Regions from separate parts of the Homo sapiens genome. Here all the other regions are linked to region 3. Evidence: fine-mapped expression QTL. A gene starts in region 3. Each other region holds a variant in brackets. All regions are shown on one strand. Distances are between the middles of the regions.

What was found. PIP is the estimated chance that this variant, and not a neighbour inherited with it, causes the effect.
Region 1: its variant is the best candidate, but not a certain one, in a credible set for the expression of DLC1 in monocytes (TOPMed, PIP 0.69).
Region 2: its variant is the best candidate, but not a certain one, in a credible set for the expression of DLC1 in monocytes after Pam3CSK4 (Quach 2016, PIP 0.70).

The regions. Positions count from the first base shown.
Region 1 is chr8:13,241,600-13,249,790 of GRCh38, reverse strand. The region is part of intron 5 of DLC1 (DLC1 Rho GTPase activating protein); the gene reads left to right. Among named protein-coding and RNA genes, the nearest start is that of DLC1, 270 kb to the left of the region's middle. The variant C/T (reference allele first, on the strand shown) is at 4,764.
Region 2 is chr8:13,214,420-13,222,610 of GRCh38, reverse strand. All of the region lies in intron 5 of DLC1 (DLC1 Rho GTPase activating protein), which reads left to right. Among named protein-coding and RNA genes, the nearest start is that of TRMT9B, 270 kb to the right of the region's middle. The variant GT/T (reference allele first, on the strand shown) is at 4,760.
Region 3 is chr8:13,510,625-13,518,815 of GRCh38, reverse strand. DLC1 (DLC1 Rho GTPase activating protein) reads left to right here and starts at 3,965. Exons shown (of 18, transcript NM_182643.3): 1 at 3,965-4,214.

The sequences.
Region 1 (8,191 bases), 270 kb after region 3:
AGGATGGGTTTATGGTATGTTGTGGTTTTCTGTTCATTGTTGTTCTTGTGATTTTGGTTTGGGTTGTTTCTTAATCAGGATGGAAGAGACTTTAGCATGTATTTAAGCAGAGGGAACGTTGCTGTAAAAGAGAAGACAGAAAGAGAAAGAGAGAGAAAGGAAGAAATAGGTTGGAAGTCTGAGAAAGGAATAAGAAAATTGTTGAATCACTAATTCAGAAGACTGTGTGAAAGGCACAAGTGAAGAGAGCCTTGGCTAGGAGGAGGAACCACCCTGAGACTGATAGAAATGGGATCACGGTGGCAGTGGGTACCATGACAAGGAGTGCCTGGAAGCTGAGATAGAGGATACCAATAGTCTCAACTCTCTTAATGCAGTGGAGACAATACAGTCTGCTGAAAATGAGTCAGGGTGGCCGGACGTGGTGGCTCACACTTGTAATCCCAGCACTTTGAGAGGCTGAGGCGGGTGGATTGCCTGAAGTCAAGAGTTGGAGACCAGCCTGGCCGACATGGTGAAACTCGTCTCTACTAAAAATACAAAACAAATAGTCAGATGTGGTTGCAGGTGCCTGTAATCCCAGCTACTCAGGAGGCTGAGGCAGGAGAACCGCTTGAACCCAGGAGGCAGAGGTTGCAGTGAGCGAAGATCGCGCCATTGCACTCCAGCCTGGGCAACAAGAGCGAGACTTTGTCTCAAAGGAAAAAAAAGAAAAACGAAGGTTTGAGATGAGTGGGGAAAGTTTAGAGGCATCACTGAGGAATGGAAAGTGAGGAGTCTAAGAATGAGTAAAATACCCCTCTGAGGTTAGGGAGTAAATGAGTAAAATAGCCCCTCTGAGGTTTGGGAGTTCCAATTGGTAATGATTTCTATCTGCAAAGCTGTGGAAGTTTCTACAGTGGTAATTAGTCATCCCAGGGAGGGAAAAAAAAGGTGAATTGCAGCTTTAATTCAATGTGGAGGTTTTCCTGGTTGAAGATATTGAGAAGCCAGGATACCAGGGAATGGAGAATGCGTGTTCAAGAGTAAAAGACTGGCTCCACCCAGCTGTGGAGAGGGAGACATGGGATGGAAGGATGAGATCAGAATGCGTTTTCAGGGTTGAGGACTTCTGAAGGAAGCACCCCAGGGGATAAAAAGATCCAGACTGCTGCTCAGTGATGGTGCTGGAATTGCAGGGTTACACCATGTGGGGGGTGTCCGCAGAGACTTTGCCTCCCACGGTGAGGCTGCCAAGGTTGGAGTTAAAGGGAAGTATATGAACAAAAGGCTAGAATCTTTAATAAATAAGGGGGAGTAACTGGGGATTGGATTGACATGAACTTGACGGCCTCACTTCAAAAGAGTTGGGAGAATAAGGATTGGGAAACAGCTCAGAGTCAGAGAGTCTTTCTCAGAGTCAGAGAGTCTTTCTTCCTGCAACTAACCTAATAGAATATGGAAGCAAAATGAGGCTTCAGGAAAAGAGGTTTGCTAAGGGGGAAGCCAAGTCTCCAATAGGACCAACAGGTGCAGAAGCTGCTGCAAAAACTGTGGATATAAGAGAGTGTGTTATCAATTAAATATGATGTCAATGGTACAGAGAAAGGGGCTGGGAAGAGAAGGGGAGCAAAGAAACAGGAGCAAAGGAGTGCTGGACAACATCACAAGGAAGTGGTTCATTTAACAACTGGGCAGCTTCCCTGTGCAAAAGCACACTGAGGACTGAGACTAACCAGGTGCCTGCTTTCCTGGAGCTTCAGTTCCAAATAACTTGCACTGTGTTTTGTAACTAAACATTGTAGACAGCCGATGCATGGTTTCAAGCTGTAAAACTACAGCTAATCATTTACATATTGTTTATTAGACTCACTGTAAACAACATCCCATTAAAATGAATATAGAACTGAAAAATGCTTTTAACTTTGAGCGGTTATGGATAGCACTATGGGGCCAGCTATAATATTAGTAAAATATCACATGGTTTGGTTAGGAAATTCTTGTAGCACGATGGTGAGCCTCAAGTCTATGATAATCAGCCTGGAAGATAAAGCAGTTCTATTTTTTGCACTTGTTTGATCATATTTTCCACATATCTTCAAAGACAGGCATTTGCATGGTGTTAGGGCAGTTAAGCATAGTGGTTATGGGAAACGGTATCATGCGACAATTGAGAGCATGGATCTTGGAGATAAACCTGTGGGATTTAGATCTCCATTCTGTGCTTAGAATGTAGGGAATTATGGGCAGGATACTTAACCTCTCTGGGCTTTGGTGTCCTCACCTGTAAAATGGAAAGGATATGAATACATCTGTCTCATGAGGTTGTTGCAAGAATTAAATGAGTCACTAAAAATAAAGCACTTAGAATGCTGCCTGGCACACTGGAAGTCCTAAATAATTGTTAACAACTACCATAATTGCATAGAGCATGCCACTCTTTGAAAGGTATTGTGTCTTCTATAGTTGATACTGCTTTGCAAAGTGTTGGCTGTACTAGTTTTGCAATTGTACTTCTGACCTAGTAACAACTGTGCCAAATTGCACAAGCAGATAGTAATGTCTGGCAGTGTCTGAAGTTTTCACTGCTAATGGAACAACTGGAACTGACTTTTACTTGGCATCCAACCAATGAATTCTTGCCATCATTTCAGCAATATTTTTGCCTTTTGTCTCTAATATTTTCAGTGGCCATGCACTAAATACTTATAAAAAGCAGCTTATTTCTTTCTGGGCAATAGGTGACGCTCCTTACAATGTGGTTGAGAGCACAGGATGGCATTCTTGTTAACAGAGGAGTCTGTTTCTGCCTGTATTTAAGAGAGACACTCAGTCTGGGTTTTGCTCATTACAGTTTTGCAATCCAGGGTCACTTCTAGGTGGGGCACTCTACTGACAACAAAACAAGCATGAACAGTATTTATGATCTAAATGATGGGGTGCATTGGCCTTATGATACTGCTTTATTCATTCAACAAATATTAGAAATATGTCTCAGATCCTCTGCTAGATCCTGGGTGACAGCCCTACTCTGTAGACTATCTCCAGATAGTTAAATAGGAACTCAGATAAATGTGATAAAGATGTTAGTGAAGCAATGGCATGCAAGTGGGTGTCAGGTGATGGAATGTGGTCGCGTAGAAAAAAAAAAAAGCATTTGTCGTACTATACCTTTGTAGGTATCTTTATTATGAACCTGATGAGAAACTGCATTGATATGAATTGCTGTGAACTCTTCATTTTCAAATGCTTTCTGAGCATCAAATTCTATTTCAGATGATCACACATACACACACACAGTCATACTCTCTCCTTCTCTCTCCGTAAGAATGCCACATGAGTGAATCTACGCAGAAAAAAGAAAACCACTCTATATGTTGAAACATTAATAACTTCACACTACACTAATAGTATCATCATTGACACCTTAATGCCTAATTTTCTTTTGGGCCAATCAATCTCATCTGAACAGTTACCTGGCAATCTTATAAAATAAAAGAAGTGTAAGATATTTAAAAGACGTGCTTTCTGACTTTTAAAATCAAAGTAATTTTCCTCCAAATGAAAAATATTCCATAAATAAAAATGTGTATTTAATTCAATTCCTTCCTGCCTTTAACTCGCCATTATTGCAAACAGCCTCTAAAACTCTTCTCAGTTCTAGGTGGAAGTGTTGCTGGACTCTCTAAGTCAGCCCCATTGCCTTCTGTAATATTATGTTGTCTCAGGACCACCACCCTGGTTCATGTTTTATACTTTTCTTCAGCTTGTTTAAAGTGTTCTTGTTTAAAGCATTTTAAAATAGTTTGTGGCTGGGCATGGTGTCTAACACCTGTAATCCCAGCACTTTGAGGGGTTGAGGCGGGTGAATCACTTGAGGTCAGGAGTTCAAGACCAGCCTGTCCAACATGGTGAAACTGCATCTCTACTAAAAATACAAAAAATTAGCCGGGAGTGGTGGTGGGCACCTGTAATCCCAGCTACATGGGAGGCTGAGGCAAGAGAATCGCTTGAACCCAGGGAGCTGAGGTTGTAGTGAGCTGAGATCATGCCACTGCACTCCAGCCTGGGTGACAGAGTGAGCTCTGTCTCAAAAAACAAATAAAATAAGAAATAATAAAATAATAAAAAAATTTTAAAAGTTTGCATTTATCTAAACAATTTCTGATGATGGGAGTGGTACAGTATCTTAACGTGGATTTCCCTAAAGAAAAGTCCCTGAGACAAAGATTCAGGTGGAGGTAGCTCATTTAGAATGTGTTCCCAGGAGGCACAAGGAAGAATGAGAGGGTGAGAGGAAGAGCCAATAAAGGGTTAATGAGCAGATTTCTGCTGCGGCTGTGCATTGTTTTACTATTGCTGCAAAACCACCTCAAAACCTAGTGGTGTAAAACAACCACTTATTGTGCTCACAGCTTCTGTGGGTCAGAATTGGGATAGGCACAGAGTGCCTCTGCTACACAATGTCCGGGATATTGGCCAGGAGAGTTTCAAAGGCTAGGGTTGCAAGACAGCTAGAGGCCAGAATCACATAGAGGTGTCTTTAGTGCCTGCTGGTTGATGCAGACACCCCAGTGGGGCCTCAACGGAGCACCTACACCTGGCCTCTTCCTATAGCCTGGGCTTCCTCACAGTGTGGCCACCTCAGGGCAGTCAGACCTCTTAAAACAAGGCCCCCAAAACAAACGTCCCAGGGAACAAGAAAAACTGGCATCACTTCTTTGACCTAACCTTAGAAATCACACAGCTACATTCTGTTGGTTACAAGCAAGTGATACTCCTGC[C/T]TTAACATAAGGGGTGGAAAAAAATAAAGCTCAACTCTTGAAGGAAGTTATGTCAAAGAATTTCCAGCATTTGTTCTAGAAACAAAAACAAGAACAACAAAATGTTGGCATAGTATAAGCAACCGTCTTCCTTCTTGCCTGGAATGGTTAAAGTGAGTGAAGAGGTGTGAGAGGGAATATGAATTAACAGACAATTACAATATACTATAACATACAGGTGATAAGAAACAAATATGTCGAAACTATAATTGGATCACAGTAGAGGGGCATGTTTATCTTGGCCAGGAGATTCAGGAAAGGTGGGTGAGAGTCCATCAGATGAAGAAACGTAGGGAAGAGATTTTTAAGTGGAAGGAATAAAAGCAATCTCTTGGTGTGTGCAATTTGGTAAAGTGGGAGGAGGAGAGTGGCAGATAAATGTGGAAAGGAGGCCAAGAGTGGTGGCTCATGCCTGTAATCCCAGCACTTTGGGAGACTGAAGTGGGAGGATCACTTTAGGCCAGGAGTTTGAGACCAGCCCGTGCAACATAACAAGACCCCATCTCTATAAAACAATTAAAAAGGTAGCCAGGCATAGTGCTGCACACCTGTAGTCCCAGCCACTCTGGAGGCTGAGAAGAGAGGATCACTTGAGTCCCAGAGTTCGAGGCTGCAGTGAACTATGATCGCACCACTGCACTCCAGTCTGAACAACAGAGTGAGATCCTGTCTCAAAAAAAAAAAAAAAAAATTGGAAAGGGAAGATCATGAAAAATCTTGAATATCATACTGACAGGCAGAGATCTGATTTTTAGGCAATGGAGGGTCCTTAAAAGTCACTGTAAGTATCTAAGAGAAAGATTATCATAGCCTGAAGGAAGGAAGTATAGCTAAACAGTAGGGAATGGGTTTGAAAAATATTTAGAAAGTAAAATAATTAGTGCCTGGGGATTACTCAAGTGTGTGAAGCACAGGAAAGGGAGAAGTCAAGCTTCACACCAGGTTCCTACCTTGGGTGCTTGAAGGAATGGTGGTTCCCCCAGGTGAGGAATTTCCTAAGAGAAGCAGGTTACAGAGGAAAAGAGTGAGTATGAGGTGCCTGTGACCTCCACAGATACACAACCCCAGGACAGGTGCATATATGAGTCTAAACTTAAGAGAGAGGGACAGTCAAAAGATACCAATTACGGAGTCATCAACAAATAGGAAGAGAATGAGATTGTCCAAGAATACATGGAAAGACAGAGAGCAGCTCTTTTGGCCCTTGGAATGCAGATGTTGCTAGTAACTTGATGTTGTTCGCAGCTGATGACCTCAATTTTCTTGATGATAAGGAAGACAAAGTTATCTCTTGAGAGAAAGTGGAACTCAAATACTGATGACAATTTTTAGTACAACAGTGACAAAGAGAAACAAAGATCTAGAAAAAAAGAAGAAAATATGCTCTGTTAGTGTCATGCAAGTCTTCATCATTGTTCCTATTGTTAACAAACCCTTTCCTTGTACTCTAAAATTCTAACCCTAGGTCTCTAATTTTTCTCACATGGCTGTACAAAACTACCTGAGACTGGACATTTATACAGAAAAGAGGTTTAATTGACTCAGTTTCACAGGCTGTACAGGAGGCATGGCTGGGGAGGCCTCAGGAAACTCACAATCACGGCAGAAGGTGAGGGGGAAGCACATCTTCACATGGTGGCAGGAGAGAGACAAAGAGTGAAATGCTACACACTTTTTTTTTTTTTTTTTTTTTTTTTTGAGACAGAGTCTCACTCTTGTCACCCAGGCTGGAATGCAATGGTTTGATCTTGGCTCACTGCAACCTCCAGCTCCTGGGTTCAAGTGATTTTCCTGCCTCAGTCTCCCGAGTAGCTGGGATTACAGGCATGTGCCACCATGCTTGGCTAATTTTTGTATTTTTAGTAGAGATGGGTTTTTGCCATGTTGGCCAGGGTGGTCTTGAACTCCTGACCTCAAGCGATCTGCCCACCTTGGCCTCCCAAAGTGCTACACACTTTTAAACAACCAGACCTCATGAGAACTCACTCACCATCACGAGAACAACAAGGGGGAAATCCACCCCATGATCCAATCACATCCCACCAGGTCCCTCTTCTAACATGTGGGGATTACAATTCGACATGAGATTTGGGACACAGCATCAAACCATATCAGTCCTGCTCACTAAACTGGTAAAAAAAAAATTGCTAAAAATGTTAAAGTAATATTTTCCATAACCTTGGGCACCCTCATAGTTGATTTCAATTCCTTCTGATTTACACACACATTGAATCATCACTAAGCAAGAAAATATAAGCCTTCTCCAATGGCAACACCTGTGTAAACCTATTGAGGAGACCAGGCACAATGGCTCACACCTGTAATCGCAGCACTTTCACAGGCCAAGGTAGGAGAATCGCTTGAGCCCAGGAGTTCAAGATCAGCCTGGGCAAACGGCAAAACTCTGTCTGTACAAAAAATTAAAAAAGTACAGATGTAGTGGCATGCACTTGTAGTCCCAACTACTTGGGAAACTGAGGCGGGAGGATCCATTGAGCCCGGGAGGTCAAGGCTGCAGTGAGCTGTGGTCATGCCACTGCACTCCAGCCTGGGCAACAGAGAGAGACCTTGTCTCCAAGGAGAAAAAAAAAAAAACTGATGGGGAGATATTTTCTTTTTTCTTTTCCTTTGATGTTTAGGATTCATTATTCTAAAACATCTCAACAATCTATGTGTGTCAGAAATGGTTTCCAACAGACAATAAATATAGACTCCTCCTATCAACCTTCATTACCACAAGAAATTCAGAGTATTGATGCTCTAGGAAAGATGCCTTCCCTAGAGAAATTGGCAGAGGAACAGAATGAGGACTAAGAAGACAAGATGAACAACCTGTTTATATGAGGACATTACTGCCTTACTCAACAGATACGAGCAGTGTAACGATGGTAATATTGGAGTGCATGAGTGTTTTACCTATAAAAGAGATCCTCCTAGTTAAAAAGAGCTGAAAAACCACTGAGTTAGATAATCCTAATCCATGGATAATCCCCACATTTTCCTTTAATGGCTTCATCTGCCACCCCCAAGAAAGCTTCCATCCAAGCTCTGAACGTGAGCCAAATGGGCAGATCTGAGTTTTGCCCCCTCTTAATGAAGCATGGTAAATGACCACAAGGCAAGCTGCTAAGAGAGGAAATGAAAGGACCCCGGGGTCTGGATATACCAAACTGGCTAATTGGCCCCTGAAAGATAGTGAGCAGCGTGTTAATGCCTCTTGTGTCCTAACAGAACAGCAGGATCTCCATGGAAGAATACCTCTCCAACTGGGAGGTCACCATAAAAGCAACATTCTCAACCGGCATCCTTTGTCCCTGTTGAAAGCCCTGAAAACATTTCTGCACAGTGTTACTTTGCCGTTTAGAGGACTTGGATGCAGGGTGCAGAGA
Region 2 (8,191 bases), 300 kb after region 3:
AGAAGCAAGAGTGCTGGAATCACCAGGTCATGCTTAGATTTGGGAGACAGTTTTGAAATTTTAGCAAACAGAATGTGAGAACTTCTGACAGAGAAGCAATCACACAGCAAGGTTTCCAAGAGGAAAATCAAAAGAAAAAAACATAATATGTTACTTAGCTTTTAAAGGATGTGTCTAACCTACATAAAACAAAACATCAGTATAATCAATGAAATACTGACATGGAATGTAATGTCTCAAACACTTTTAGCAGAATAGCTCAAAATCCAATACAGAATAATCTATTGACAGCACTGTTACAGGCTTCATTTTTCTACCATAATCTGAAGGAATTGAAAATGTGGGTTTCTCTATCTCTTTTCTCACTTATGATAGCAAAAAGTGAGTGATTAAATGATTTTACATAAATAATGCTTTTGGAGTGGCCCTACATTTCTTGATGTGAAATACCTCTCTGTAATATATTCTGTTACACAGAAACATGAACACCAAAGTTTGCCAAATACACATGAATTGATGAAAATAATACAGAGGTCTTCTTAGAAGTCAGAATTTCAACCTTTGTTCTTAGAACAGCTAAGTTTAACTTCTCACTTGGCAATGGTTTATAATATTATATATTATATAATATATAATTAATTATATATGTTATATAAAATATAGATAATTTATATATTATATATAACTTTTTATATACTAATATATATTTTAATATATAATTATATATTAATGTATTAATATATTTTATTAATATATTAATATATTTTATATTAATATTTTGATGTATTTTATAATATATGTATTTTATATTAATATATTGATGTGTTTTATATTAATATATTAATATTATATATAATGGTTTATCATATATATATATATATATACACACACACACACATATACACACACATATACACACACACACACACAAAATCTTTGGGGCCAGGCATGGTGGCTCACACCCGTAATCCCAGCACTTTGGGAGGCCAAGGAGGGCAGATCACTTGAGGTCAGGGGTTCAAGATCAGCCTGGTCAACATGGTGAAACCTCATCTCTACTAAAAATACAAAAGTTAGCTGGGCGTGGTGGTGCATGCCTGTAGTCCCAGCTACTCAGGAGGCTGAGACAGGAGAATAGCTTGAACCCAGGAGTTGGAAGGTGCAGTGAGCTGAGATTGCACCACTGCACTCCAGCCTGGGTGACAGAGCAAGGCTCCGTCTCAAAACAAAAAAAAAAAAAAGAAAAGAAAACCTTTGGAAGCAATTTTTCCTGTTGAGTAAAATAGGCCCGTGAGCAGGGATCCTGGTTGTCAGCCAGCTTTTGAGGGCTCTTCCCAATCTAGATGTCTCTATTTGGGTGTGCTGTCTGCGTAATCATCCGGGTCAGTGGTGTCTAACATCCCCCATGGAAAGAATGCGGTGGTGACACCCAGCATTTGTTTTGTTTGTAGGGAGAACTTGTGAAAGCTAATGACCTTAGTTTAAGGCTGAGAAAACCCAATGAGTTGAAAGTGGCTAAAAACTGAAGACTCAAAAGATATTCCCTTTATTTTATTGTGCACTGGAGTAACCTCTAGTACCCCCTTGGCAGAAGCCTACACCATTAAATTTAAAATGTGATCACCTAACACCCTCATACGTGGGGCTGCATTTCATCACTCTGCCCACAGCCTGTCTTGCTGACATTCTTGACTGGCTGTGAGGCTGTCACTGAGCTTGCCTGGCAGGGCCCACAGTCACCCTTTCCAAGGCTATTGATCTCCATGTGAACAGTTGACAATTCTAATTTCAAACTCCGTATATTTCCAGTTGCACTTTGATGCTGTAATAAATCCAAGGCAAATTATACATATTTAGTTCCTAAAGTAATGATGTATGGATTTACTTTGGATATAGAAAAAATAAATATGCTGTGCATGTCCCCACTTCTTTCCTCCACAGTAACGCAGTATTTGTAAAACAAATGCCATAAAAATTGAGCTGTGAGTGATCCCAAGGAGTGTCTGCTTCTTTTCTTAAAGGCACAGGAAAATAGTATTTAATAATAATATCAAGAATATAATGTTCTACTTGATGTGTTTACTTATTGATAGTTAAATTTAATAGTTGGGGAACATTTGGTCTCTGCTGAAAATATATTTTGTGCTTTAAATTAATCCTTACTTCGATCAAATTTGTAGACTCTAAAGAGACATTCCTCAACAATTCCACCTGATCCCCACTTGTTACACAAGCCAGGCTGCTCAAGTTTCTATCTTTACCTTTACGTGGGGCACCTTTATCCTTTGCTGCAAATTCAAATTCGGATTCAAATTCAAATTTCCTTTGTTCTCAGAAGCCCACCTTCTTCAAAAAAGGCTTCACAATTTCCCTTGCCTTCCCAGAGACCAAAATGACTCAATGTTATTGTGGTAAAATATACATAGCATAAAATTCACCATTTTAATCATTTTAAAATGTACAATCCAAGGGCATTTTGTATATTTACAATGTTGTACAACCATCACCATTATCTACTTCCAGAACATTTTAATCGCCCCAGAAGGAAACCCCTGTACCCATTGAGCAGTCACTCCCGCCAACCCCTCCTCTTCCCAGGCCCTAGAAACCACTAATCTGCTTTCTGTGTCTACGGATTTATCTATTCTCGATAGTTCATGTAGTGGAATTAAGACAGTATGTAGCCTTCTGTGTCGCATTGTTTTTACTTGCTATAATGGTCTCAATTCATCCATGTGTGTAGCATGTATCAGTACTTCATTCCTTTTTACAGCTGAATAATAATCCATTGGATGGACATACCTCATTTAATTTATCCACCCATTAATAACGATTCAGAATGCTTCCACTTTTGGTTGCTATAAATAGTGCTGCAATGAACATTCTTATACAAGTTTTTGTTTGAAGACCCATATTTTATTTTTTCAATACAATTCTTGGAGATATAGATATAGATATATAGATATCTCCAAAAATATCTCCAAGGAATTAGTGAAGGCTTTTTTGAAGAAGGTGGGCTTCTGAGCACGAAGGAAATTTGAATTTGAGTCAGAATTTAGATGTATAAATATAAATGTATATATATTTAAGATAATTTGGCAGTTTCTTAGTAAGTTAAATATATAATTATCATATGACCCAGCAATTCTATTCCTGTTTATATATTTTATAAATTATAATTATATAAGTATAATTATATGAATTATATAAGTATAATTATATGAAATATAATTATATAAGTATATGAATTATATAACTATATGATTTATATAATTATAATTATATGAATATAACTATTCATATTTAAGAATATAACTATATAATTATATTCATATTATAATTATATAGTTATATTCATATTCAAGAATATCATTATATAATTATATTCATATTATAATTATATAATTATATTCTTATATAGTTATATTCATATAATTATATAGTTATATTCATATAATTATATAATTATATTCACATATAATTATATAATTATATTCACATATAATTATATAATTACATTCACATATAATTATATAATTATATTCACGTAATTATATTCGTATATAATTATATTCACATAATTATATACGTATATAATTATATAATTATATTCGTATATAATTATATAGTTATATACGTATATAATTATATACGTATATAATTATATAATCATATTCGTACGTAATTATATAATTATATATTCGTATGTAATTATATATATTCATATATAATTATATAATTATATTCATATATAATTATATAATTATATTCATATATAGTTATATTCATATAATTATGAATATAATTATGATATATATTTATATTATATATAAAATATATAAACATGAATAGAATTGGTGGGTCATATGATAATTATATATTTAACTTATTAAGAAACTGCCAAACTATTTCAAAAGACTTCATCATTTTTACATTCCCATTAGCAATGCGTGAACCAGTTTCTCTACCTCCTCACCAATACTTGTGATTTTCCTTTTCTCAAATTATGATAGCTGTCCTAGTGTGTGTGAAGCATTACATCACTGTAGTTTTGATTTGCAATTCCCTAATGGCTAGTAACCCTGAGCATCTTTTCATGTATGTTAGGCATTATCATCTTTGGAAAATGTCTACTGATTTGTAAATTTTTTCTCTTATTATTTGGGTTGTCTCTTTATCAACAGTTTCCTTTGACGCACAAAAGCCTTTAATTTTGATGAAGTCCAGCTTATCCTTCTTTTGTTGTTCATGCTTTTGGTGTCATATCTAAGACAGCATTGCCAAATTCAGTATCATGGACATTTTCATCTATGCTTTCTTCTAGGAGTTTTATAGTTTTAGCTCTTAAACATAGGCCTTCAATCCATTTTTAGTTAATTTTTGTATACGGTGTAAGGTAAGGATCCTAGTTTATTAATTTGCATGTGGCTAGTCAGTTGTCCCAGCACCATTTGTTGAAGAGACTGTTCTTTCCATCACCCATTGATTTTGAAACTTTCTAGTGGATAGCATTTTAGTTAATTATTATATATTGCTTTTTGTTGTGATTTGATACATGTATGTCTTATTTCTACAAGTAGAGAGGACTCCATTCAAGGGAGGGGACTGGCTTCTGTCATGTTTCTGGTATTTTATGTAAGGGCTAAAATGGTTCCCAGAGTGAGCAAAAAGGAATCAAAGAGGACGCAAGCCCTTGACCCAAGAAAATCAGAGTATTTTATTTAAAGAACAACTTTTAGTTGGTTGGTTTTTTTTTGTT[GT/T]TGTTTTTTTTTTGAAATGGAGTCTCACTCTGTCACTCAGGCCGGCGTGCAGTGGCGTGATCTCGGCTCACCGCAATCTCTGCCTCCCAGGTTCAAGCAATTCTCCTGCCTCAGCCTCCCAAGTAGCTGGGACTACAGGTGCCCACCACCACGCCCGGCTAATTTTTTTTTTGTATTTTTAGTAGAGACAGAGTTTCACCATGTTAGCCAGGATGGTCTCGATCTCCTGACCTCATAATCCGCCCTCCTCAGCCTCCCAAAGTGCTGGGATTTCAGGCGTGAGCCACCATGCCAGCCAGTTGTTTTTAATTATAAATGAATATGACAGAGTCTCTTCCCTCAAAATGTTCACAGCCTAATGGGGGAAGCCAATGCATTTAGTAACCATTAGACATAACATGGCTATTGAGTGGCTCAGATGCAGATCATTCTAGTGAGACATGTTATAAGAGGAAATGCACAACTTAGTACAAAGAGAAGAATGCCACACACATCCTTCATGAATTGTTGATATTAATAACGTTGTAAAATGATATTTTATACATTAGATTAAGTAATAAAGTCACAAACGTGATTTGGTTCTTTTTACTCTTTTAATGTGTCTTGTATTATATTTCTATTGGATAACACTGGCATAGACAAATGGAAAAGCAAGCATCTCACAGCTATACAAATAGTAAGAGAACTGATGTTTATATCCATTTCTTTAAATTTTAGAACTTAGGTTTTTATTTACTGTACTGTACAACTCAAAATTAACCAGGAGTATTAAGATGTGATTGCTGGCTCCAATTTGAAACTAGGAAGTGGGGCTTAGATTCACAACCTATATTCAGTTCTTTATTGTGCACAGAACACCTTCAAGGACACAAGCAAAAGACAAACATGCTGCCCACAGCCTCAAGTTTCAGGGGAGGCACACCTGTCCCACATCACCCAATTAGAGAACAATTACAGGTTAAGCCAGTGGTTCAAAACCAGAGGTAATTTGGTTTGGTTTCCCATGGAACATTTGGCAATGTCTAGAGATATTTTTGATTATCACAGCTGGGGGTACTACTAGTGTCTACTAGATAGAGGCCCAGGGATGCCACTAAATGTCCTATAATGCACAGGACAGACCCCCACAACAAAGAATCAGTTGACACAAACTGTACATAGTCCTGAGGTTGAGAAACCCTGGGCTAAACCATTGCTAAGGGAAGTATTTCAGAGAAAGAGGAGGTGATTGCATGCTGGAGCTCTCAGGGGAAATGACACGAAGGAAAGGACCCTTAGGCAGACTATGAAGTCTTGGCACGTTCTGCTGGGTAGAGGGATGGGGTAAAATGGGCAATAAGAGTGCTGCCAGTTGGGGAGGAGTGTGGCAAGGAGTGGAACTAGAAATGGACTTGAGCCCCTTGGAGTAGAGTGTGTCATGAAAGGAAGCAGTGACTAGAGAGGTGATCTGCAACTCAGAAGAACTGGATTTTAAACCTGATCCTTCTACCTGGCAGCTGGGTGGCTTTGAACAAATCATGTGAGTTTTCTCAACTTCAATATAGTCCTCTGTCAAATGAAAATAATTGTAACAACTTTGACTCTTTCTAAGTTTTGAGTATCAAATGAGACCTTTGGTGTAAAATAATTCATCACTGAAAATACAAAGTATTATTGTTGACTTTATTGTTGTGTTTGTTGCTAAACTGAGTTGGTGCCAGAGTGTGGAAGGCTGGCAAGGAGAGGAAACTGGGTCTGATGAGACCATCTGGAACAGGACAGCAATAAGAGGACAGTGACTCTTCGGAAGGTTCACTTTGATGCAATGTGTAGGAAAGATGGGAACTGCGAGAGAATGGAGTTAGAAAAATCACCTAGGAAACTTTTCTGGGGAAACACCATGAGTGGGTAAGAGGGATCTGGTGGGCACTAAATGGATTCGAGCAGCCACTCCCAGCAGGGCACACTGGGGAGACGAGTTGTAGCCTTTTGTAGAGGTAGACAGAAAAATCAGTAGATTACTCCACGGGCTTGCGCACTAGTCCTATCTAATGCGAAAGATTACGAGTGAAAAATATATGTGGTTTCTAAGACTGGGTGTTTAATATTTTATAAATAATCAACACAGAATCTTAAGAAAATATGGATTATGAAGTTTCCCTGAATATGTCTCACCTTCAATAGTTCTACAATAGTAGTATGTTTTAAAGTTTGCTTCCCTAGTAGGATGTACTTTCTAGCTCTTTGTTTGAATTTTTTTCACATTTAATATTTGTTTTTGTTTTTTGAGATAGGGTCTTCTCTGTCACCCAAGCTGGAGTGCAGTGGCGTGATCTTGGCTAACTGAAACTTCTGCCTTCTGGGCTCAAGTGATCCTGCTGCCTCAGCCTCCCAAGTAGCTGTGACTATAGACGTGCCCCACCACGCCCAGCTAATTTTTGTATTTTTAGTAGAGATGGGGTTTCACCATGTTGGCCAGGCTGGTCTCAAACTCCTGACCACAAGTGATCCACGCACCTCGGCCTCCCAAAATGTTGGGATTACAGGCGTGAGCCACTGTGCCCAGCCTTCACATTTAATATTTAAATTCAGAGTCTTTCAGCCTGGTACCTAGGCAGATAACTACTTTTATTAATTTTTTTTGTTAAAATTATTTTTTTGTAAGACGTTTGGGAAATGATCTAATAGTTTTACTCTATCGTAAGGATATAGAGAATGTAGAAAGTAGGCTCCGTTAGCATGTAAGCTTCCAAAGGGCAGGGATTTGGGGCTGTTTTGTTCATGGTTATAATCCTTTGCTTAGAACACTGCCCAGCACATGGTAGCCTCTATAATTATTTGCCGAATGAATAAATGAACAAATGAATTAATAAGAGGCACATATTGTGTGTGTACTCCTCCTGGATGGTTACGTGGTTAAATGGGCACTGTGTGCATTTTGTGGTGCTGAGTTTGACAATATCTTATTCCCAGTCATGGAGCAAGGCGCTTACAAAAGCCCTGTCATGAGACCCATCTATTGCCACTCATTGATTGCCACCAGCACTCAAATCAATCATTTTCTCCTCTCCTTTTTACCTCCCCTGGAACCCAGCAGCGGTAAAATCAGTAAAGTTGGAAGTGGATGAAGATAAGAGCACAAAGGGATCCAATTTTTCCAACTCGGAAGTGGCAATTGGTTTGTCTCCTTACACCTTTCCCCAGAAGAGGCTTTTCCATGTTGCTGGAGAAGAAAACATCACCTAGGCCGGTGTGTGCCTGGCAGAACACTGCACTCCAATTTCCTCGGGCAGCCACAAAAAAAAAAAAAAAAAGGTGGGGTTGGGGCCGGGGGACAGCTCTTCAGTAAGATGTGACAATATGCCAGTTTCACCAATGATAAGAGAAACCTGAGATACCAACAGTCAGCACAGACCACAGGTCATGTTTGACAGTGCAAAGCTGCAAGGTCC
Region 3 (8,191 bases):
TGTTCTTAACATTTATTACACTAACTGTATGCATGTAGATATTTCAAAATACTTTCAAGGTATTTATTCTCTTTATATATTAATTTCAAGTTCATTGCTATTATAAACATATTCATTAACAAAAATGGAAAACATAAAAGCTGACTTCCACGCATAATATCACAAATGTCTAATGTGACTGAATTAATGATGTTGCTACTTATTTCATAAAAGAGTAAAACACTATTTTCAAAGGATAGATCTTGCTTTACATAAAATGTTCTTGAACTGCATGAGAGACACTGAATAATTCTGTACAGAAGTCCAGATTCAACTTTCCTGAAAATGATTGGGAAATGACTAGATAAATGATCATAGCTAATGTTTATTGTTTAGGTAAAAGTACCTAAGTAGAAAAGAGATCTTTAGGCCAGGCACAGTGGCTCACGCCTCTAAACCCAGCACTTTGGGAGGCCGAGGCAGGCAGATCACTTGAGGTCAGGAGTTTAAGACCACCCTGGCCAACACGATGAAACCCTGTCTCTACTAAAAATACAGAAATTAGCCAAGTGTGGTGGAGTGCATCTGTAATCCCAGCTAGTCAGGAGATGGAGGCAGGAGATTTGCTTGAACCTAGGAGGCGGAGGTTGCCTTGAGCCGAGATCACCACCACTGCACTCCAGCCTGGGCAACAGAGCCAGACTCTGTCTCAAAAACAAAAACAAAAACAAAAAAAAGAAAGGTGATCTTTAAAATACCATTTAATCCACCTCCTGCTATTCTTCTTTCCACAGAGTACATAATTGTTCCACCACTATAACGGTTTCACATGTATACATTTAACTTGGAGTTCAATAGAAGAGAGAGAAAGATTCTAAAAATACCTGAAAGAGAGATGTAAACATTAAAAAAGGCAATAATTTAAGTGGTAAAAATAATTCTAGCTAATGGCTTTATATGGACTAGCTTTTTGCATTGTGACAATTCTTAGTTATGGAAGCTAAGACATCCTCACCCCGGTTAGGTAACTCACACAGGTCACAAAAGCTGTTAGTTTTGGAGCAGACTCCTATCCTGATACTTTGTTTTCAAGTTCTTAACTGTCCCTGTCCCCTTATTTGATTAGCTGATCCAGTACAGAGTAACAGTCAAACATTTAAGGAAGTTGGTATTTAGATTTGCAAGTAGAAAGAAGGGGACAAATATTTTGAACTCCTTCAGTGTTCCTGACACAATACTAAGTACTTAGGAAGTTTTCTCACTATTTATCTTTACACTCATATTTGGTAAAGCCTTTATAAGACTATAAGATCTGAGATTTGTTTGGAATCAAGCAACTCAACAATGAAAAATAAATATAAGTAATTAAAGATTTGGGAAGTAATCCTATTAATAGAAGAAAACATAATGTATTTTTTGTGTAGAAAAGGGTATGTTTATGAGAAACTTACTAACAAGAGTTTCTAGATATCTAAAAGGCATTTGTGAACAGAGTTTTCTTGTTTTCCCAAGCCAATAGAAATAGAAACAAAACTAAAGTATATGGCGCGGGGTACAGTATTCATGAATAAAATGTAGCTAAGAATTAGCATGATGCTGATATAATATTGAGTAACCACTGTATATCAGTACTAAAGGCAGTGACAGAGATAGAGATATCAAGTTATATTAGGAAAGACATAATATCAGTTCTCATTCCTTTCTTCTCCAGTGTTTTTCTTAGGGAAATAAACATAAATACACAAATATTTCTGCATATAAATTTCATCCTGCTTTCCAATCTATAAGTTATGTGAAATTGTCTCTATTTTTAAAGAGAAACTATTAGAGTTTAAGAAGTCTTCCCAATTTAATAAAGAAATTAAGTGGAAGTCAAGGAAGGCAGTTTATGGAGAAAAAATTAAAGCACAAAGCTTGGAGCTAGAATATCTGAGTTCCAGTGTGGACCTGGGCACTTTGTATCATTTGACTGTGAGAAAATTGCTTCTCAATACTTTATTTGTAAAATAAAACATATGAATACACGCAAAATTGTTGGAAAGATTAAATAGGCATACTGTCAGTAGAAACACTTTGAATATAAATATAAATACTTTTTAAAGAATTTATGGAAGAACAGACTTCTTTCTTGGCCTATGGTTGAAGATTAAATTAAAGAAACCTAAATGCTCATGTTTTTAGTCAATAAGACTTTGATCTAAACTTTTAAAGCTGCTTCTGACCAAACGTTTTTATTTGACTACTTCTCATCTTCAAACTCATGCACAGTATAAGTCATTCTTGCCATCTAACATGGGTCTAATATGGTTCATGATTTGCATTAACTTTGAGAGATTTTAGCTACCTAATAAGGAAAAAAATAGTAGTTAGAACCTTGTGCATCTTTGAGTTATCACCTACCCAATATTATCAAAAAGTACTACAAGATAGCCCTTGTGATATACAGGGATGGAGAATAACAGTGAACAATGAAAACTACTTACAATTTCAGAGAAGAACAGGATAGATCTTAGGGCCAACAAGTTTAAGATGTCTTTTACCTCTTTATATGTTACTCATTTTATCACATCCAACTGGAATTATTCTTGCACTTCCTATTATTGAAAGCTTCTAGAAATTTGCAAGAAGCAGATAGACCTAATAATTAATCTGATCATCAGTCCCCCCCCAAAAAAATGCTTGAGTCATAAATAGCAGCGAAATCCATTGATTGTAAATAAAGTAGAAGGGAGACATGACTGAGCCATTTCCACCAAGCAAGATAATTAAAGTCAGAGATGCTGTTTCCTGCTTCCCTGGTATAAACAATGAAGCTGCTCTACTGGCCTCTCCACAGCCTGGATGTCCCAAAACCACCTCCCTCTTCTTTCCTTCCACATTCTCTAAAGAGGATTCTGGGTCATAAAGGAAGGAAAATTGGTGTAACTTTTTTCCTGAAACGACTTCAGCTTCCTCTGTGTTTGTATTTGTGATATCTTATTATAAGACGAGCTAACATCTATTATTAATTGATGCACTAATTAAAGCCATACTTGCAGTTTCCATTAGCTTATTCCCTAAATTCTCCAGAGTTGCCTGTCTGGTTTTAATCAAAACCAAATGGTAGTCCAAATTCCCAACCTGGAGCAGCTAGGAGGAAGTCATTCAAGGGAGGCACAAGAAAGCAGAAAAGATAAACAGATGATAGTTCACAAAATTTGTGACGGACGAAGGATGCAGATACCATGAGCGGCTTTAGAGATGTGATTCAGGAACGCTGCCATGCTAGATGGAAGCAGTTGTAAGTGTTTAATGTCAGCAAGACTCTAATACGATCAAGATGGAGCCTGTCTTCTGCTCCAGCACTGGATTTTTGTAACTGGAGGATTCTGACTAGAGGTAATGCGCTGCTGCATTTGCCATAACACGAACTATTTTAATTCTGTGAAGGATTCTTGTGATCAGAGAGATCTGGAAGAAATCGTTCTATTAACTGGATGCTTGGGATTTTACTTACAGATGGTCTCAGGGACAGAATGAAAAGCTGCAGCATTTCCAATTTTAAGTCATGTTCAAAAAAGGTTTTGCCATTTAGAAGAATTATGGTATTAAGGCTAAATTCATCTTGCTCTCTTAAAAGATCTTTTGAAATGAGAGCAAGCACAGGCATTTTGATTAAGCTGTGCATATACATTTAATATAGTGGAAAGGTTGTGGATAGAGAGAAAACTACGTTTTCTTTCTTTCTTTCTTTCTTTTTTCATAAGCAGTGTGGGATAGAAAAAGCTCTAGGACTTTATGACTCTACAGCTAATCACCTCAAGAGCTTTGACAAAACTCACTTGAGTTCTGTGTAAAATCAGAACTCCTAAAACGCCCAGGCGGCTGGGCTCTCCCCTCCTCCCCTCTCTTCGTACAGCCTTTCTAGCATGCACACTCCTCAGAGGCAGGAAATACTTTCCAGGCAATCTGGGCCTGGTTGTGGAGGCCCCTTTTGCAAAACCTCAGTCTGAATTTAGTAGACAGAAGTCACTAGGAATGCCTTGACAGGATCCTGCCTTAGCTAAGGCTCCCTCCAGCTGCAGAGGGTGTTTTTGTTAGACTCACACACTGCGTGAAACTGCTCAGAATAGAGCCATGATCTCAACCACGAAATGGGAACTTAGATTTTGGAGAAACTAACGGGGACGGACTTCTTTCCTAGCCTGAGTGTTGAGCAGTGTCATGCCTTGGCGTTTCAGCTCCTCGTTGTCTAGGTAAGACGCTATGGACTATCTTTATGCTTTGAGGCGGTCTTTGAAGAGGCAGAAAGATTGAGATAAATGTTAGCATCTTGCACGGAGTTGGTGACTTCCTAGGTTTTAGAGCAAAGCCATAAAATCAGAAGTGGAAAATGTTTGATAAGTAGAAAATTCTGAGTCAATTCGTTTTAGCAAACTGTCAGTTCTAAAACAGGCTCCATATAGATTTAACTCTTTTCCTCCATAAAGTAAGATTTTATTTTTATCCCTTTTTACGTTTAACTTATTTATTAATTGAGCTGTCGGATCAGTTTTCCTATTTCTTGGCATAACGTGAAACAAATACATTTTCTCACACATCAGTGTGAGGTGTAAATGAATTCCTCCCCTACCTTCCTTTGCCAACAGGGAGAGTAGAAAGCACCCGAGTGACTTGTGCTTAATAATCAGTCTCCAAAGAGTATTTTGTGTCTCATTTAAAACTACGAAGATTGAATTTCTTATTATTTTACCCAAGCCAGTTTCAATCATATGTCAAGCTTCTCCTGTACAGCTTAAAAGGTTCATTTAAAAAAAAAAAGTAAACACGTGAAATTTCAGGAATTATTTCTGTCCTAAATAGTATTTAATCTGAGTTTTGGAAATTTAAATGTCGGAATCGAATTTAGTTTATATTAATTTTCCTGGATTCACTGCTTGCTCCGGTCACATTTTGTGTAATATTTTGAATAACTGAAGTCAATCTCAATGACACTGACACTCATTATAACTCTTTTAAGGCAGCCAGAAATCACTCCAGTCATATGGAAACTGTTTGTGTCCTTACTTATGTAATCGTAAAATTACATTTCCACCTGACTGTAGTCTCTTCAAGGTAATCTTAAATGTTTAAATGTACAATATATTAGAAAAGAAGTTTAGTAATGACCGAAAAAGTGTGGACTTATAATGCATAAGATACTGTTATATTTCTGAATATTTATAATAAAATTCATCATTTTATAGAAATAAAATGGTACATAAAGGGAAGAAATATTCATGTACATTTTCAAATCTATTAGATGAATACAAAATATACTAAGTGAAAGATGGAGAGCTATTTTGACAGTTGGATCATAAGAAATGAAGTAACTGTTTTCATTATAAGTTTTTATATAGTACAAGGTGACCATCTGCTATATTAGCTATTCTCAAATTTTATGCTAGAATAACTTATATTGATAAATTTTAACTATTCACTGACAATTTGTGTTAAAACTTCTTAAATATGAGAAAAAGAATCTACTTTTTATATATGTGGAAGATAAAATACTGACTTATCTAAATTATGATTTAATTAAAATCTCCAAATGGAATTTCAGAGAAGGAAAGAACATAAGAGATGGTCTCCTCTAACAATGGCTTGAGGTTGTCTACAAGAAGCTGAGAAATGGGATTTAAAAGTGACCTGTCCAAGGTCACACCTCTAGCTAATAGAAGAGAGGACAGCAGAACCACAGTGCCCTGATTCATAATTCAGATACCTTTTTATCCCATCATCCTGCCCTCCCATAATAATTATGCATAATGAAGTATGAACATGTCCAGTAGAAGGGTGCTTTGCAGACAGAAATTTGCAGTTCCTCTAATTTAAAAAAAAAAAAAAAAAAAGGTAAAACTGTCACCAATGTTAATTATGTGGGGAAAAAAATCCTAACTTTAAAAAAAAATCAAATCAGTATGCCTTCAATAAACACTTTACAGTAGTAACTTGCTTTATGACTATTTTATTATATTTGATGTTTATGTCAAGAAAATCAATCCATATGCTAATAATTATATTAATTTTAATCTGATGTTTCTTTAAAAATAGGGCTAGAAAACAGCTTTTCTAATTTATATCCTTGTACTCAAATGATCATAATGAAACTGTCCCAACCAATGACTTTCAGAGGCAATTTTACAGCACCACCCCCAGGCATCCTTTCTTCTATCTAGCCTAAATCATTGTTGCTGTAGCTTATTTCAAGTTCTATGTGGGTCTTTTCACTAAATATATAAAAAGCCTAAGTTGACATATAAAAAATATGTTTACATTTCTCCAGCATGTTTGCAATCCCTTAATTGATTTGTATGTCTGCTCTAAGCCTTCTACAAAGTCATTTAATTGTAGAATGCAGAATTTTTACAGTATATAAATAAATGTCTGAACAACGTGGTATAAAATGGGAGCGTGGGCTATTTCATCTGCATCATACTTCATATATGACAATATTTGTTGCTGTGTGTGCTGAAGCAGTATACCTTCTCAGACAAGACCCTTTCTCATAAATGTAACACATTCCATTTCTAATAGCTGCCATTTCCTTAGAGAGAATGTGTCACGATACTTTTTTTTTCCATTTTCATGACCAGATTGAGTTTCCTGATGTTATTACTACTTAAAAGAGACACTATTCAACACTTCCTTTCAATGTCACCACACTCTACATTATTGGAATGAGAAATAAGTGCAGTAAAGTGGTGGCCCTTATAGCTGACTGCCTGATTCCTAGAAGGCCTAGTAAAAGATAGCACATCACTTCATTTTCTTCATAAGGACATTATAATTTAAAAAAAAGAATTTTTTCTCTCTCTGTCTATACCTACCCATACCATATAACTCACTACAAATACTTATGGGATGGTTTAATCTTATTCATAGAGTTTTAGATCTTACAGGCTTAAAATAGGTCAAAAATTGATCATTTGAAATTTGTCTTTTGTTTGTTTTTTGTTTCCTCTTGAAAAATGAGTGATGTCAGTGTTATAAAATGAGAATCACTCTTTAAAAACTATTACAGTATGGCAAAGTTCCAAATGACCAAGATCTAGATCAGGGATTTTATTATCAAAATAGAGACATGTCAAGAATTGCACATGAGAATTGGAAGAGGACAAGGGAACACTGAAAACTTTCAAATTTGAGGGAAGTAGTGTGAATATTGGGCCTGCTTTCCCCACACGAAAGATAAGCCCCTTGCATAAACAACATAGACCAAACAGAGTTACAGAGAAGAATGACTCTTGATTGACTTTGGTGTGATAGAGAAATACAGTGTTTACTTCTATGGTTCTGTTTTGGCTTTCAACTGATAGTTTACAGAGTTTTGATAAATAAATGGGCTAATTTTTAAGAAAGTTAAACAGAATAATAATGAATAAACTAGGACCTTGAGGCCCAGTTAAAAAAGATTGTTAATTTTGATTCAGTGGATTAGAGTATATAAATGAACTTTAAAAGATTAAACAGTGACTCAAATGCCAAAAAAAAAGGTGAAAGATAATGTAAACAGCATGCATATGAACTTGCTCATTAATTGAGATAAATGGGTGGAAAAGACAATTGCATGTGTGAAAAGGTTGTTTCTGTATTAGCTTGAAATAACAAAGTGTTTTAGCAATGCAATTCAAATAATTCAAAGAGAAAATCAGCCCTGTTAATGGAAATGAGATAGAAAAGAAGTAGGAAGATCAAACAGCAGGTTTAGATACTCAATTAGTGTTTCTTTTATTCCCAGCAATTAGCAAAATACCTAGCTTGCCAGGAATTATCAACACTTATTTGTCAATAAATGTTTGTGAAATGAATGGAAGGAAAAGCGAAGGAAAAAAAAAAGAAAGGAAAACCAGGGTTGAGGAATGGTAATGTGTGGGAGTTGGACTTCTTTCTTATTTTCCAGACATCCTGTAATAATAGAATAATAATTTCTAAAGGGGAAGGAAAATAAGAGGTTGGAAAGAGTCATCAGAGCCTGGGGCCAGAGGTTAACAACACTCTCATTAGATGACATTTCAAGTTCATTAAGCACCAGAAGGAAGCATAGGCATCCAGAAATGGTTTGAAATTAAAAGTTACATGAGGCCAGTGAGAACAGAGCACTAGTGAATTTTCCACATTTTAAATGGGGTGGTGTACCGAAAAAAATAATGGACAAAGTTAGAAAACTGGCTCTGATTTCCTCTTAACCACT